2 separate regions of the Homo sapiens genome follow, and region 1 is linked to region 2. The links come from fine-mapping of genetic effects on gene expression. Tissue or cell type: fibroblasts. Region 2 holds a variant in brackets; the other region holds the start of a gene. All regions are shown on one strand. Distances are between the middles of the regions.

Region 1 (8,184 bases), 51 kb after region 2:
CATTATAATCATTTTAGAAAAAAGTTGTTTCCAATTCATAAGGTGCTTCCTAAATTAAAAAGATACATTCTGTTTCAGTTAAAAAGTAAAAAACCTCACTAATATCTTTACCTTGGGTTTCAGAATATTAGTGCAATTCCCGGTAGTTTGGTTTTCAAATCTCTAAACAGTCTTACTTAGGTCATACAACAGTTAAATTTCAAATATAATAAGGAATTCAGACAGCAAGTCATTGACATGTAAATATAAAAATAGAAAAGCATTTGCATACTAAAACATACACCTGGAACTCTTTCCTTTTTCATACCAAATTGTATTTCACCTGTAACAGCTGATGAAAACACTCAATGCAGTTAACTAGAAAAACTTGGTTAAAAAAACAAAGACCCGAATCACGTGATAACACAGGAGGACGGCCATCCACAAGCCAAGCAGAGGGGCCTCAAAAGAAACCAAACCTGTACCTTGATATTGGATTTCTAGCCTCCAGAACTGTGAGAAATAATTTTCTGTTGTTTAAGCCAAAACAAAGAAGGACCTGACTAGATCAATTAACCAAGCAGCAAAGATGCCAAAGCACTGTGCTAGGCGCTGAGGAGAAAAGGATTACTACAGTAGACAATCCTTACCCTCAAGGGGCTTACGAATGTAGTCAGTGACACAAGACAAACCTGAAGTAAGATGGTGCACAGAGGTGTACTTTAAGTACATGAGACAAACTCCATAGGTGGTAGAGCAGTCAATCAATTAAAAACCTCTAGAATGGCTTCAAACCAAATATATGTGGGCTTTCAGATATCAAAGATTCATAGTACCCACTAGCAGAACGTTTGCTGTGTGAGATGTTTCAGCACTCCAGTTCTTTATTGCCCCCTTCCTTAAAAAAATAAATAAATAAAATAAAAACTGCTACAAGTCACATCACTTTTTGATAGAAATGTAAGTGAAAAATGCCTTTTGAATATATTCAAGAATGCTGCAACCCATTTCCCTTTCAGTATCCCTAGTTTTTAGCATTGTATGTAAGGCACTAAAAAAGAAAGTAAGCATCCAGATCTAAGAAGATCCAAACAAGTGCTAAAAGTTATTAGTAAATCAATGACAAAATTTAAACCAAGGAACAACCGTTTTCCTGTCTGTTCCATCCCCCAACCAAAGCTTGGAAATCCTCAAGAGTTAGGCAAGGATAAGTTCACAGTTAAATCTCTGAGATAGTCTGTGGAAGGGAAGAGAGGAAGGCAGGAACAGGCAGGTCCCTGAGCAGAATGACCAAGGCACCATTACCAGCTATACTCTTTTCCACCTTGAATCCCACACACCTTGAAGAAAGGACCACGCTGCAGCAGAAACTTCCTTGGGGACTAGCTGAGAAAACACTGGACTCTACTAGTTTTTTTAAAAAATGGATGAGATCACTTAGCAGCCTAGATTATCAAATCTGAAATATAAATAAGATGGCCAGTTAAAATGCATAAACAATGCACCCATCAATTTTAGCCTCAAAAACAATGACGAAAGGAGATATTTACCGGGCTAGTTCCAAAGAGTTCATTTTCCTGTGGTAATGGGCGCTTTTCTCGGGAGTAACAATTTTTGAATGCACTGAAAATATCAATTCATCTATCCAAAGTGGAATCATTAGTCCTTGGGAGAAAACCCAGTTCATTCTAGTTTTGATAGGAACAAACATATTTTATTATAAACTACTAATCTTTCTAAGGTTAGACCAAATAGACCAAAATGTTATATTTAAGAAGCCCTTAGGCTTTTACAAATATCCTAGCACTAGCAAAGGTAGGGTCATTTGTTAAAAAAGTATTATTTCCTACTACAGCAACTGACCAACAGATAACAGCAACTTAAGAGGCACTAAATGACACTAAAACATTACACTGAATGTGGGCCACTGCATAGCTAGTCTACTAACCTCATTTGTGGTACTCATGTGTGATGCTATATTTAATGCATTCTTATCAAAAGGCTACAGCTACATACTTCTCAACTGTAGCTTTATGGTTTAAAATAAACCACTCAAGCAATGATCTTAACTGGTTCAACTATGAATCCTATCTTTCTTCTGGAGATCAAGATCACAAAATAAGTGAAAAGACAGAAAGGACAGGAAAGTAGTTATGCAAAGTATATCCTAATGACAAGAGTATTATAAAGGAATTCAGTCTGGATCAGGTGCTAACACTTAATGCCACAGGGCCACTGAATCAAACACACGAGATGACCAAGGTCTTCGTAGGAATTAGTATTGCATACATTCATCTACTGATCCTGTGTTCAGTGGCTTGCTTAGGTTCTAATAGAAAAGTTTGGTAGACAGCACACTTATGTGTGTTGCTCATGAGAAGGCGCTCCACCAAAACTTGCCATGAGCCTAGACAGCCAATGCATTAGGCCTCTTTACCACATAAGTGAGGGTGGCTTCCTACAGTTGGGTTGAGAAGCTTGCTGCACCTTGGTCAACATGGAGACAACCATTAGAGATGGACTCATCCAATGACAACCAACAGAAGAAACCATGAGAGGTTGTGTTTTTCTTTGGATACTCACCAGACAACACCAAAGGCTCCATATCCAATAGGTCTATCCGGCTCAATATCCAGCTGCTGCTGTGGATGATGCGAGTGCTGATGATGGTGCGCCTTAACTGTAGCAGCTGCGGCAGCCTGTACCTGAGCTGGGGCTGCTGCAGCTGGTCCAGGAGCCTGCCCCGGTGCCGGTGATGGGAAATATGGCTGTTGTTGCCCAGGGTTTAACATGGCTGCAGCTGCAGCCGCTGCTGCGGCTGCCGCAGCTGCCGAAGAGGTGTGCTGCTGTACAGGGTGTACAGCGGCAGCCGACCCCGGATGAAGATGGTGTTGAGGGTGGTGGTGGTGGTGCAGGTGAGGAGGAGGGAGGTGTGGAAGGTGGTGGTGATGGTGGTGGTGGTGACCTGCTGCTGCTGCAGATGTACCGCCATTGTAAGCCGCCATCATTTTTGCGTTGGCTCTTGCGCCACAAAGAGACATTCAAAATAAATGCCCTTTGATTGGAAAGCAAACTGGGTCAAGCTGTCATTTGGCCATTTAAAAATGAAGAAAAACCACTCACTCCACCTCAAAAAACATAGAGCTTTATGTCTTCATCAGTCAATCCAAACAAGTTAGAGGATCTTGGTGTTTAATTTTGGGGTGAGCGTGTGTGGAAGGGTGTGGGTTGCCAAAAGGAAAAAAAAGGGAAAAAAGAAAAGAAAAAGGAAAAAAGGACCCCTTCCCCCCAGGATTCCTGCCACAAGTGGGTACTAAAACTCCATTCTTAATTTGGGGGAGGTTCCAACTTTGAATGTGGGAATAAAGGCCAAACCTCCCGACCCCCTGAACTCCACACACGAAAAGGATCAGGTAACACACCACCCTTGGAATCTTGAAAGAGGGTTGACTCATCTACCCCTTCCATTCCCACATCCTTTTCTAAACACCTACCACCTCCTCAAAAACAGGATTAAAAAAAATTCCCACCACCCTAAATGGAGAAGATGGGGGGAAATTTTCTGGGAAACCAGCTTCCAGCTTCCCCCCCCCCGAACTCTCAGGCCTTCCTACATCTCCCCCTACTCCTAGTCAGGTTGACCTGATTGGGGAGGGGGGGCGGGGGTTCCAAACTTTCCTGGGCAGAATAAGCCAGGGAAGGAGGCTGGAGTGAGGAGAGGAGGCGACAGCAGGACAGAGAGGAGAAAGAGAGCCGGGGCAAAAGTGAAGGGAAGGAGGTGCAGGGAGGAATGAAAGATGTGGGCAGCGCTCGGACGCCCAGACGGAGGGAACCGCCCCGGGAGAAGGTTAGGGTCCCGGGGCCAAAGAACAGGAGCCCCGGGAGGCGGGCGGGGTACGGTCGGAAGCGGGCTGACTCCTGCCCCCGCCGCCGGCTGCTTCTGCTGAGGAGGGTTGGGGGGGAGAGCGGGTGGGTCCCCCGCGCAACGGCCCCGCAGGGCTCAAGGCTGCTCCGTCTCCCCCCCTCCCCCCCACCCGGCTTCCGTCCCCGCGGCCGCTTTCTCCTCAGCCGCCGCGGCCGCCTTCTCCTCAGCCGCCGCCTCCTCAGCCGCCGGTTCCGCCGCGGCCGGACTCACCTCCCCTAGCAAAGCCGGATAGAGCGGAGCCAGCGTCGGACACGCGCAACCAGCCGCCGAGGCCCCGCCCCCGCCTTGCACGGACCGGCTGCCCTAGCCAATCCACGCCCACCTGTCCGCCACCGCCTCCAATCCTGGGCCAGGAGCTTCAGACAGGCGCACTGTTCGGCCAGTGGCAACAAGGTGTGGGTCTTCCGGGGAAATCCCGCCCCCGATCCGGGATGGGCAGATAGAAAGACCAATCAAAGGCAGAGTTTGGCTTGACCGACAAGGCTTAAAGCCAATTAAAAAGCAAAGATCTTTGTGACATTTTTCTTTCGCCTCTCTCCTCTTTTCTTCTTCTTCTTTTATTATTTATTTTTTTTTTTTTGGCAGGAGCAGGAAGCTGCGTGGTAATCCCGCCTGCAAAAGCTGGAAGAGAGGGGCGGAACGAAAGAACCAATCATGAGCCAGAGACAAAGAACAGAGTAACCAATCCTTGGGTTGAAAATGAAGTGGGATGGAACCTGGGCCAAATAGACACTTGAAAAAACAAATGGAAAAAAAAGGTTGATGTAAGTCCCACCCTTTAGATCTCCTATAGGACAGGATTGTGGAGAATTTGCTGTCATATCGAGACAACCTCTTCAAGGGGCGGGGCTTAGGGAAGGGGTGGGGTCTTAAAGTGGGCGGGACCTAGACGAAGAAGGCGGAGTCCAAATCATCACTGGTCCACTGATCCGAGATGTCCAATATCCCACTTAAGATGTAAAGTGTGGGGTAAAAAATAGGGGAAGAAAAAGGGAATGTTGAGCTTCAGAAACTCAAGGTCCAAGGTCACTCAACAAGAAGACAAAGGAAACTCAAAAGACTGACAGAAACTCAGTAGACTGACAGTTCGTAGTCTACGGCCGGTCCTCTCCATAGTTAATCCTGATCTTGGCAAAAAGAGGAGGAATCTCTGGCATTCAGAACTCCACTGTCGACAAATGATAAAGCTGTTGGTGCAAATTAAAACAAAAAAAGTAAACTTGACCACAAAAATAATAATTTTCCTCTATCTTTCTTTCTTAACAGGGTCACATTCTGTCACCCAGGCTAGACTGCAGTGGCACAGTCCTAGCTCACTGCAACCTCCAACTCCCGGCTCAAGCAATCTTCCCGCCTCAGCTTCCCGAGTAGCTGGGATTACAGATGTGCATCACCATGCCCGGCTGATTCTTTAATTTTTTAGAAACAGGGTCTTAATATGTTGCCCAGGTTGGTCTCAAATTCCTAGGCTCAAGAGATCCTCCCACCTCCCACCTTGGCCTCCCAAAGTGCTGAGATTACAGGCGTGAGCCACCGCCTCCAGCCTCTCCCATATTTTCTATCAAGTAAGTTTCTGTCATTGAAATCTTACTAAAATAGCATCTTTCCATCACTTCATTTATCTGAATTTACCCTTCCTTTAAAATGTGAAATAATAAGCTTACAGAACCTTATCCCTACTGAAACTGTATAGTTTACTCAAAAACTTGGAAGTCATCTTCGATCCCTCCTTTGCCTGTCCACATTGTCCCTTCCAATCTATCAGTCATCAAGTCTTCTTTTTTTTTTTTTTTTTTTTGAGACATGGTCTCTGTTGCCCAGGCTGGAGTGCAGTGGCATGATTACAGCCCACTGCAGCCTCCACCTCTTGGGCTCAGATGATCCTCCCACCTCAGCCTCCCAAGTAGGTGGGACTACAGGCACATGCCACCACACCTGGCTAATTTTTGTATTTTTTTGTAGAGATGGGGTTTTGCCATGTTGCCCAGGCTGAATCATCAAGTCTTAAACAATTTTAAATCCCCCTCACTTCTGCTACTTCCCAGTCACACAGCATTTACCCAAATTTACACCACTAACATCTTTAACCATTTCCCTGCCTGCAAGCTAGCTCTCCTTTGATCCATCCCCCTCTGGGGGCATAGTAAATTTTTAAAAATACAAATCTGAGACCAGGGGCAGTGGCTCACACCTGTAATCCCAGCACTTGGTGAGGCCAAGGTACGTGGATCCCTTGAGTTCAGAAGATCAGTCTGGGCAATGTGGCAAAACCCCGTGTCTACAAAAAATACAAAAATTAGTGGTACACATGTCTCTAGACCCAGCTACTGAAGAGGCTGAGGTGGGAGGATAGCTTGAGCCAGGGAGGTAGATGCTGTAGTGAGCTGAGATCCCACCAGTGCACTCCAGCCTGGGTGACAGTGAGATCCTGTCAAAAAAAAAAAAAGGCTGGCTGTACCCCTAAATAGCCTGGCATGATCTGGTTCCTGCCTACCTACCTCAAGGGTCTTATCTCTCCCTTCCACTCCACACTTCAGACATTCTGAACTTCCTGCAGCTCCTTGAATGCTTTCAAGCCTTCATGTATATCTTCAGCCCAAAACATTTCCCGCTCATCCTTCACTGCTCTAATTCATCCCTCAGGTCTTCGTGTAAATTTTACTTTTTTTCCTGGAAAGTTCTAACTCTGTTCTAGAGTATACGTTTCTGTTGTATATCTCCATGACACTGCCTCCCTCATATCGATATTTTAAGTGCTTGTTGAGTTTGACCGGGGACAGAGAGCTTGTCTGTCTCACTCAATGTTGTATGCCCAGTTCCTTAGGACAGTGCCTGAAAAAAAAGAAGACACTTGCTACAGATTTGCCTGAATTACTGAGTGCAGAAGTGGGTACAAACCCAAGCTCTGCCATTTACTTACTCTATAGTTTAGGCAACTTAACTAACCTTTCTCAATCTCAGTTGCCTCAACTGAAATAATACATGACTCATGAGGTCTATATGAGGGTTAAATGAGGTGATGTATTTAAACGTGCTTGGCAAATAGTGAAAATGCAATATAAATTCTCTTCAACACTCACCCTCATGTAATATTTGAGATGTTTCCAATTTTCCAATGCACAGCACTCTCCTCCAAAGTGTAGTTTCCTAAAAGCTTCTTAGATGTTCAGCAAATTATCTGGTTTCACCTCAGACCTACTGAATAAGAATTGGAGGAGGAGAGGAGGAATCTGTTTAACAAGCTCTCCAGGTCATTCTTACAAACGCTAGAGCTTAAGAAGCACAGGCCTAGAGTAAAGGAGCTTAGTCTTTGTAAACTTTCTTTTTCAGCGCTTAGTATAGTACTATAATAATACATAGAAAGTGCTTGATACATGTGAAATAAATAAATTAATCTAATCCACGAGAAAACAATTGTACATTAAGAGTTATTTATTCCTTCCACAAACATGTATTAAGCACCAATTATATCTAGGCATGGTGCTAACTTCAACTGTGGGGGAGAGGAGATAGATGTACAGATGCTTCTGGACTCATGATGAGTTTGTGTCCCTTCTTTTTTTCTTTTTGAGACGGAGTCTCGCTCTGTCGCTCAGGCTGGAGTGCAGTGGCGCAATCTCGGCTCACTGCAAGCTTCGCCTCCCAGGTTCATGCCATTCTCCTGCCTCAGCCTCCTGAGTAGCTGGGACTACAGGCGCCCGCCACCACGCCCAGCTAATTTTTTGTATTTTTAGTAGAGATGGGGTTTCACCATGTTAGCCGGGATGGTCTCGATTTCCTGACCTTGTGATCCGCCCGCCTCGACCTCCCAAAGTACTGGGATTACAGGCGTGAGCTACCGCGCCTGGCCGAGTTTGTGTCCCGATAAGCCCATCGTATGTTGAAAATGCATTTAATACCCTAACCTACTGAACATCGTAGCCTAACCTACCTTAACGTGCTCAGAACACTGACATTAGCCTACAGTTCTGCAAGATCATCTAGCACAGTCTATTTTATAATAAAATGTTGAATATCTCATAATTTATTGAATACTGTAGTGAAAATGAAAGGCTGAATGGTTGAGGCCGGGTGCAGTGGCTCACACCTGTAATCCCAGTACTTTGGGAGGCTGAGGCAGGCAGATCACGAGGTCAGGAGATAGAGACCATCCTGGCTAATGTGGTGAAACCTCGTCTCTACTAAAAATTCAAAACATTAGCCGGCCTGGGAGGCTGAGGCAGGAGAATGGCGTGAACCCAGGACGCGGAGCTTGCAGTGAGCCGAGATCACGTCACTGC
Region 2 (8,184 bases):
AATTGTTGACAGACATTTTCTCCTCCTTCAATATTCCTTCAATTATAGCCCCTTAGGACTAGATATCTGAGACTATATTGTAGGAGGATAAAAAAAATTACAAGAACACTTCATTTTTGAAAACTCAAGTCTATACCACTGAGTCACAATAACGACAATTCTGCAAGCTTTTGGTTAGCTTACATTTTCTTGGCTTAACTATGGTAAACTAGGCTAAAAGTAAACCACATTGTACTTTTTCTTGTGTAAAATTATAATTTTACATAGTAGAATCAAGGACTTATGAATTTTGTCATCCTCTTCAAAAATCCCTATTTTTAGTGAGTCAGTAGAAAGTCCAGGATGCCACTGAAATAGATTCTTCTGAAATCAGTTAAATAATTACTATTATTTTTCAACGTTTTCAAAATAAGTATATCCTTGACCTATAAAAGAATGCCTGTGCTGACAATTTCTTGAATGTCACCATTTAATAAGCAAGACGTCATCATGAATGTACAATTACACTTCATTTGTGATGGTGGGTCCTTGCAACAGGAAGTAAGATTGGAGAAATGCATGGGAACTTTTGGAATAAATTCTCCATTCTGGTTTTATGATTTTAATATAAGTGCAACAGTTAGAACACACAACAAGAGAAAAGGACAGGAACACACTTGGGAAAAAGATGACTTTTCTATTTGAGCCAGCTATTTTAGAAAAATCCTAGAATACTTACAGTGAGTGTCAGAATGCCATCTGGTTGTACTGTTAATGTAAATTTTAAATGTAACTTTAAGGATTGATGCAGATTTTCTTTTGTAAAACCAGAAACATTAAAAGTTACACCATAGCAAGGGTCACAGCAAGGGGCAAGTGGGTTGCTTAATGGAATAATCATTTCAAATATATATATTGTAATTGCAGAAATCTGGAATCATAGGATAATCTGCATCAGTAATAATATTGGCACCTTGCTTTATAATAAAGTCCTTGAAGATTAAAGTGTACAATCATACTACAATCCTGAGTAGTAGAATCCTTGCCTCTAGAAGTGAGACTTGGATAGAGAGATGCATCTTTTCCCACAAGCTCTGAATTTCTTCCACAACTATGTTGAGTTACAGTCTGAAATTTTTTTTAGAAAGTAATACAATTCCATCACATGTAGAAGCTGTTAATCTGAATTAGGAATGGAACGAATCTGATAACATGGCCATGTAGACTTTTCAGCAAACTCTTCCCTAGGGTCCAGGCCGCTGTCCAAGTTGACTACCCTCCCAGCTTGAGGGGGTACTGCACTACAGAGGGGAAATATGGGGATAAAGCAGGAGGACTAGCACAGAAAGGCAGCAACAATAGTATCATGTAACATTTGCTAGCACCATGTATAACTCATGGTCTCTTTCCCCATGAGGACAATCCTTTTCTAGCACTCACAGTAATGACTTCCACTTGAGGTGGCAATTATTTGTATCTTCCCAATTTTTCCTTCTAATTTTATTCTGGTAAGGAGACTACATTCTCCACCACCAAAAAAGACTTAGATATCATGAAAACTGGAGCTAGGTCAGGTCCCTTTCCTCTTTGGTTAAAGAAGAGCTGCAAATATGTGGACTGAGAACTACCTCTGCCCTGTGGAGAAAACAATTTAAAAAATAAACACAAATTTGCAGAGAAAGTCAGAGAAAGGAGACAAGAGTCTTGACAATATTCAAGTCTTGCACTATCAAAGGCTAGTTCTACTCTATCCATCTTGAAGCCTGGTTATGTGAGGCAACATACCCACTTTTTAGCTAATATAAGTTGAACTTTTGTAATCCAAGAATTCCAACTCTTATACCTCCCTTTACCAGATGCTTATTTTCACCTGTATAAAAATATTAGCTTTTGTCTCTCCTCCCCACCACCCACCCACCTCAAAGACTATAAATAATGTAATTTGCCTCAACAGCAAACCCCTAGGGATGGCAATGTTTGAAATAATCCTTTTCAGATACTTAATCTTTTGATGACTGACTTTACATTACGTATTACCATAAATGCAAATCAGTAGCTCCTTTGTCAAGAACTCCCCTCCCAATACTACCTTCCTCTCTGGTACATAAGCTTTGAACTCGGTCAGCAAAAGGCAAGTGGCCATAGCTGGGTTAATAATGCACTACTAGTAAATATATCCATGGCAGTAATTTCAAAGGTGTAAAAGAGAAAGGCAGCCTTATTGAAATGTGTTCTTGCTTGTAGGTTCTTAAGACAAAAGCAATCTGACATCATCTCTCAAACTACGTGGGTAATTTGGTTTTGTTTTGGGGGTTGTTTTTGCTCAGAAACCTGAAGAATCTAACCATTCCCTATACAGTAAATTCTAGGACGTTCTGAAGAATTACAGCTTTTCTAGAGAGCTTAATATAATCTCTCATGAATAAAAACAAGTCATCTTATTTGTCCACAAGTTATTAAGTATCATCTGATGAGAATATAATGGCTTTTGTCAGCATCTGTGAATTAATCATATTCTAGTAAAAATGTTACAGCTTCTTTCTGCTACCCTATTAAATAATAGTCATTTTTTTGCAATCTTTTGTCATACTCTTTCTAGAGATGTTGGATTGAAATTCTAATGTTATAATGCAGATCATATCCTAAGGCAGTCTGACAACAGAATAAGTCCTGACACAATGTTCATTAATTATTAACAATAGCAGAAACCATTAGTCCAGTAAAACACAAATAAATGAGGTGAACAAATGAAATATATGGTGAGTCTTTGGTGTGCAATTTTCATGGGAAGAATTGTTATCTTCATTTTTCAAACAGGGAAACTAATGCACAGAGAAGTTAACGAACTTGCCACGTGTTACGTACAACTCCCAAGTAGTTTGAGAGTTGATGTCAGATTGCTTCCGTCCTAAGAATAAGGGGCAGAACTGGGATTGGATTAAAGTCTTTTGGACTCTACAGTGTATGTTCTTTTCACTATACCAGACTGCTCTCCCTCAACTCAAGTTCTGTGAAGCAGCAATTACAAAGCTTTCCCACCATACCTTCCAAGGAACCCTTTGATGACCATCACATTTCACAGAATTTTTTTTATTATAAATTACTCCTCTTGGAATGCCTATGGAGTAAGGGGAATATGTAGTTAAGATACCGAGGGAGAGTTAATGGAGATCGCCCACAAAAGGTCTACTTTTGGAAATGCTATTATATATAGATCAGCCTACTTTAGGAGCATTCAATTTTGGTTTCATTAAGTATGTATATACTTCAGAGCTAGAATTATATTTAAGAAATCTATTGTATATTTTTCCAGCATCTGGTCATGAGAATATTTCAAAGAAAGGAAAGCCCTTTGTTTTGTTAATGCATATCCCCTCCTCCCTGCAACTCCCCTCCCAACTAATGAAGTTACTCTTAGTCTCAGAAAACTGGTTTAGGAAAACTTTAAAAATATAACAAAAAAACAAGCCACTAGGCCGGGTGCGGTGGTTCACGCCTGTAATCCCAGCACTTTGGGGGGCCAAGGTGGGTGGATCAGGAGGTCAGGAGATCGAGACCATCCTGGTTAATGTGGTGAAACCCCGTCTCTACTAAAATACAAAAATTAGCTGGGCTTGGTGGCACATGCCTGTAGTCCCAGCTACTCGGGAGGCTGAGACTGGAGCATTGTTTGAACCCGGGAGGCGGATGTTGCAGTGAGCCAAGATTG[C/T]GCCACTGCACTCCAGCCTGGGCAAGTGAGACTCTGTCTCAATAAATAAATAAAATAAAATAAAATAAAATAAAATAAAATAAAATAAAATAAAATAAAATAAAATAAAAACAAGCCACTTAGTTGCTTAGCTCTTTCTACTTCGAGGCAGGATACAGTCTGTTTTGTTTGACTATTATCTCCCCGAACTTGTTACGCTATAGGTGACTGTTGAAGGGGAGGGCTTTACTAACTTAACTCTGGTTAGAAAACAAACAGTTACACAGTTGACTGAGCCTGAGGGTGGAACAGCTTTAAGACAGGAAAGATAAATCCTAAAAGACCATTCTAAAATATTTATATAGTTAATGGGAACAAAAAAATTCCCTCACAAACTATGGCTTCCTCCAAAGAGAAAAATAAGTATCACCAAAATGGAAGAGCTCCCACCTATTAAGTAAATGTTCTAAATTTGTTTCCATTTGCTGTAAAGAAATGTGTACATCCACAAGTTTTCTGAAACTGCTGTTACATTTCAATGTAAATTCTTTTTGGAAGACAAATGAAAATGCTGAGTAGGCTTTCCTTACCTTTCCTTCTCCCCCCACCCCCCCGCCTTTTCTTTGGTTTCTTTAAAAAAAGCTCTGAGCAACACACCAGTCTTAATGCATTAAGATTAGAAGCATGTGTCCAAAGAAAAGTTGGTCCTGACAGAAGGCTATTTTACTTCTTACCATTAGAAATGGGAAGAAAAGCTGCTGTGCAAGTGCTACATGTCACCAATCCAAAGAGGTTATGCCCTTTGGCAGCACATTTAAGAAAAACCTGTATATTGTTAGCTCTAATGATTTCCAGGTCTTTCTTGTTCAACTAGGGGTGCCTACCTGGCAACATATTAAAAGATGTTAAAATAAAATTCAGGAGACAGAAGACAGGCTGGTTGTCAAAAGAAAAAAAAATCAGATGCCAGTATGACAAAGACTTTTTATTTTGGAAGATGGGTAATAAGTGCATTAATAAAAAGGAAGAGTAAGAAGGGAACATTACCCAGTATTATCTGTTTCAGTTGGATTGGTTGCACACCTGCAATGTTTCTTCTGGGATACTGCAAAATGGAATTAACAAAGGTCTCTTAACAGGAAAGGAAATGACCCACAGATCAGACTGTCTCACTGGAGTGTCGTTTTAGAGATTACTATGGAAATTCTGGTCATGACATTCTAAAGAAACAGGTCTTACATCTCTGGGAATAACTTTTATTTGGTAGATTACTGAAATGTTAACTATGTGGAAGGGGGTTATTTTATATCTAATAAAGTGAAGCAACAGAAGCTATAAGAACTGTATTGACCTTTTTCATATCAATGATTTTATATATGTGTGTGTGTATATATATATATATAAATATAATTATATATTTTAGACATGTGTGTAAATGTAGAAATTAAACGCTGTGTACTCATTGCCCAGATAAAAGTGTTTACCACATCTGCTTCAGATACATTTTATTAAGACATAATGCTACTACAGATGCATCCAAAGACTGCATCTTTAACTGAATCTGTCCCAGTTTACCATTATTCTGGCTCTGGTATGAATCCTTGATACTCACACTTTAACTTTTGATACATATGACTGTAGCCATAAAAATATGGTTGTTTTATGTTTTTAAAATTTACATAAATGGCTCACACTGGCCTAAGCTTTTATATATAACTTGCTTTCTCCCAAATCAGCCTTGTTTTTACAATTTATCCATGTTGATGTGCTTCAAGTCAGTGACGAGTAAATAAATAAAATGAAATAAAATTGATCCATGTTAATATATCTAGATCTAGTACATTTATTTCATATATATAGTATTCCACTATATGAATATAAGCCCACAGATCCAAGAAACTCACTGAATCCCAAGAAGAAACATGAAGAAAATTACATTTAGACATCACAATCAAATTGCTCAAAACCACTGATAAAGAGAAAAATCTTTAAAGCTGCCAGAGGAAAAAAAGACATATTACACACAGAGGAACAAAGATAAGGATTATAGCATATTTCTCATTGAAAACAATACAACCCAGAAAATAACAGAGTAACATCTTTGAAGTACTTAAAGGAAGTCACCCTAAAATTGCATACCCAGCAAAAATAACTTTCATTATTATTATTATTTTTTAACAAGCTCCCGCTATGTTTTTAACAAGCTCCCACCAGGAGATCTCAAATTCCTGGCCTCAAGCGATCCTCCCACCTCTCGGCCTCCCAAAGTGTTGGGATTACAGGTGTGAGCTACCACGTGGCTAAAAAAACCTTTCAAAAATGGAGATGCTATAAAGACTTTTTCAGACATTAAAAAAAAATTAAAATAATTTATCACCAGCAGACTTGCACTATAAGTAGTCATAAAGGAAGTAAAATGACTAACAGATGAAAAACTGGGTATCTACAAAGAAATGAAGAGCATGGAAAATAATAACAAGCACAGGAAACAACAACCACACAGGTAAATATAAAGACTTTTGGTATTATTTAAATCTCCTTAAAAGACAACTGTTTAAAGCAAAATAACAATGTAGTGTGGGGCTTAAAACATATGTAAGAGTGAAATGTATGACAGCAGTAGCCCAAAGGCTGGAAGGTGAGAAATGGATATAGACTACTATGCTATGCATAAAATAGTATAATACCAATTGAAGGTATACTGTGATAGGTTAAAGATGTATACCATATACTTAAAGCCAATCATTAAAATAATATAGCAAACAGTTACAACTAAAAAGCCAACAAGAAAGATAAACATGCATGATTCATTTAAAATTCTGATAAACTGGAAGTCATTAAAATTAGAAACTTCTGCTCTTCAAAAGACACTGTTACAAAGACAAAAACACAAGCCACAAACTGGGAGTACTTATTTGCAAATGATGTTGCTGATAAAGGATTTGTATTCAGCATTAGAAAACCCTCAAAGCTCAATAAAAAAAATACACACACAATTTTTTTTAAAAGTAGAGAGAAGATTTGAACAGATAATTCAGCAAAGAAGACATAAGGATGGCAGATCACTAGTCATTAGCAAAATGCAAATTATAACCACAAGTAACACTACACACACATTAAAATATCTAAAATTTAAAAAACTAACCATACTAAGTAACAGCAGTGATACGGAGGTACTGGAACTCACACACTATTGGTGGAAATGTGAGGTGGTAAAACCATTTGGGAAAACAATTTAACTTAAAAAAATTATGCATACACCTAGCTTATTATCCAGCCATTTCATTCCAGGTGAAATGAAGGCATATGTCCATGCAAAGACTTATATATGAATGTCCAAGGAGTTTTGTTTCTAATAGCCCTAAACTAGAAATAACTCAAATGTTCATCAGTAAGTGAATGAAAAAAAAAAACAACAAAACTATAGTATATCTCTACAATAGATTACTACTAAGCAATAAAAAAGGAATGAACTATTAATTCATGCAACAACATGGATAGATCTCAAAATAAATAAGCTGCGTGAAAGAAGCCAGATGAAAAAGAGTTCATTTTATATGATTCTATTTACATAAAAATCTAGGAAATGAAAACTAATCTATAGTGACAAAAAGCCTACAGATGGCAGTGGGAAGAGAAAGGTGGGGAAAGAAAATATTACAAAGGGGTAGAGGAATTTGTGGTGATGAATATGTTCAGAATCTTGACTGAGGCAATAGTTTCATGTGTATACGTACATCAAACTTACCAAACCATATGATTTTAACAAAGTTCTTTACATCATCTAAACCTGTTTTCATTAATCATATTGTTGGTGCTGGTATTCTGAGTACTGTGTATGCACTGTGAGGTGAACAAATGAATACTTATGTGAAGTTCTAATTCTATCATTTCTGGCACCACTGAAAACCAAGGGAACCAATACTTTGTATGGGAAAAAGGAGATTCAAGACCAGAATTTTAATCATTTGAATTTGAAGTATCAGTATGAACTCCTGGTATCATTTTATCTTAAAGATATGCCCACTAAAAAAAGCCTAGAAACAATGACAAACCCAAGCGATGAGTACCTCTAGTGCCAAGGGAACCTTGGAGAAATGGCTGATTCCAGATCTGGGTTAGAAAATGTACAGATGAGCCTGGAACATGTTGTCAAATCTAGACAACTAGGGTTATGTCAAAAGGACTCAGGAGCCCAGTGACCAAAATAACAACTTGCATACCAATAAAGACAATGATTTCAGTGAAATAAAAATATCAAATATTTTTCTATTTGAAACTAAGAAATATTTTTCTATATGAAATATAACTTAAATCCATAAGTTAATTAACTGGTTACTGTTAGAGGATGCTAATGGATCAATTCATTATTTTGAAAATGAATAAAGCAAACAAATTATGCATTTATCCCATCATTTATAGAAACCGTACCTACCAACAAGTAATCAAATAGAAAATGAAGTTTCACTTTATAGAACTATTTCAGCTAACAAATACAGAAGACCTGGTAGAATTAG

What was found. PIP is the estimated chance that this variant, and not a neighbour inherited with it, causes the effect.
Region 1: it holds the start of NLK, and the variant in region 2 is fine-mapped to the expression of NLK in fibroblasts (GTEx, PIP above 0.99).

The regions. Positions count from the first base shown.
Region 1 is chr17:28,037,710-28,045,893 of GRCh38, reverse strand. It overlaps NLK (nemo like kinase), which reads right to left and starts at 3,217. Exons shown (of 11, transcript NM_016231.5): 1 at 2,563-3,217. The coding sequence starts at 3,020. LOC105371709 (a long non-coding RNA gene) reads left to right here and starts at 4,174. Exons shown (of 3, transcript XR_934637.4): 1 at 4,174-4,297; 2 at 4,490-4,668. It overlaps LOC102724517 (a long non-coding RNA gene), which reads right to left and starts at 2,556. Exons shown (of 2, transcript XR_001752820.2): 1 at 1-2,556. RefSeq lists silencers at 3,830-4,059, 4,080-4,309 and an enhancer at 4,477-4,771.
Region 2 is chr17:28,088,362-28,096,545 of GRCh38, reverse strand. The region is part of intron 1 of NLK (nemo like kinase); the gene reads right to left. Among named protein-coding and RNA genes, the nearest start is that of NLK, 50 kb to the right of the region's middle. The variant C/T (reference allele first, on the strand shown) is at 3,689.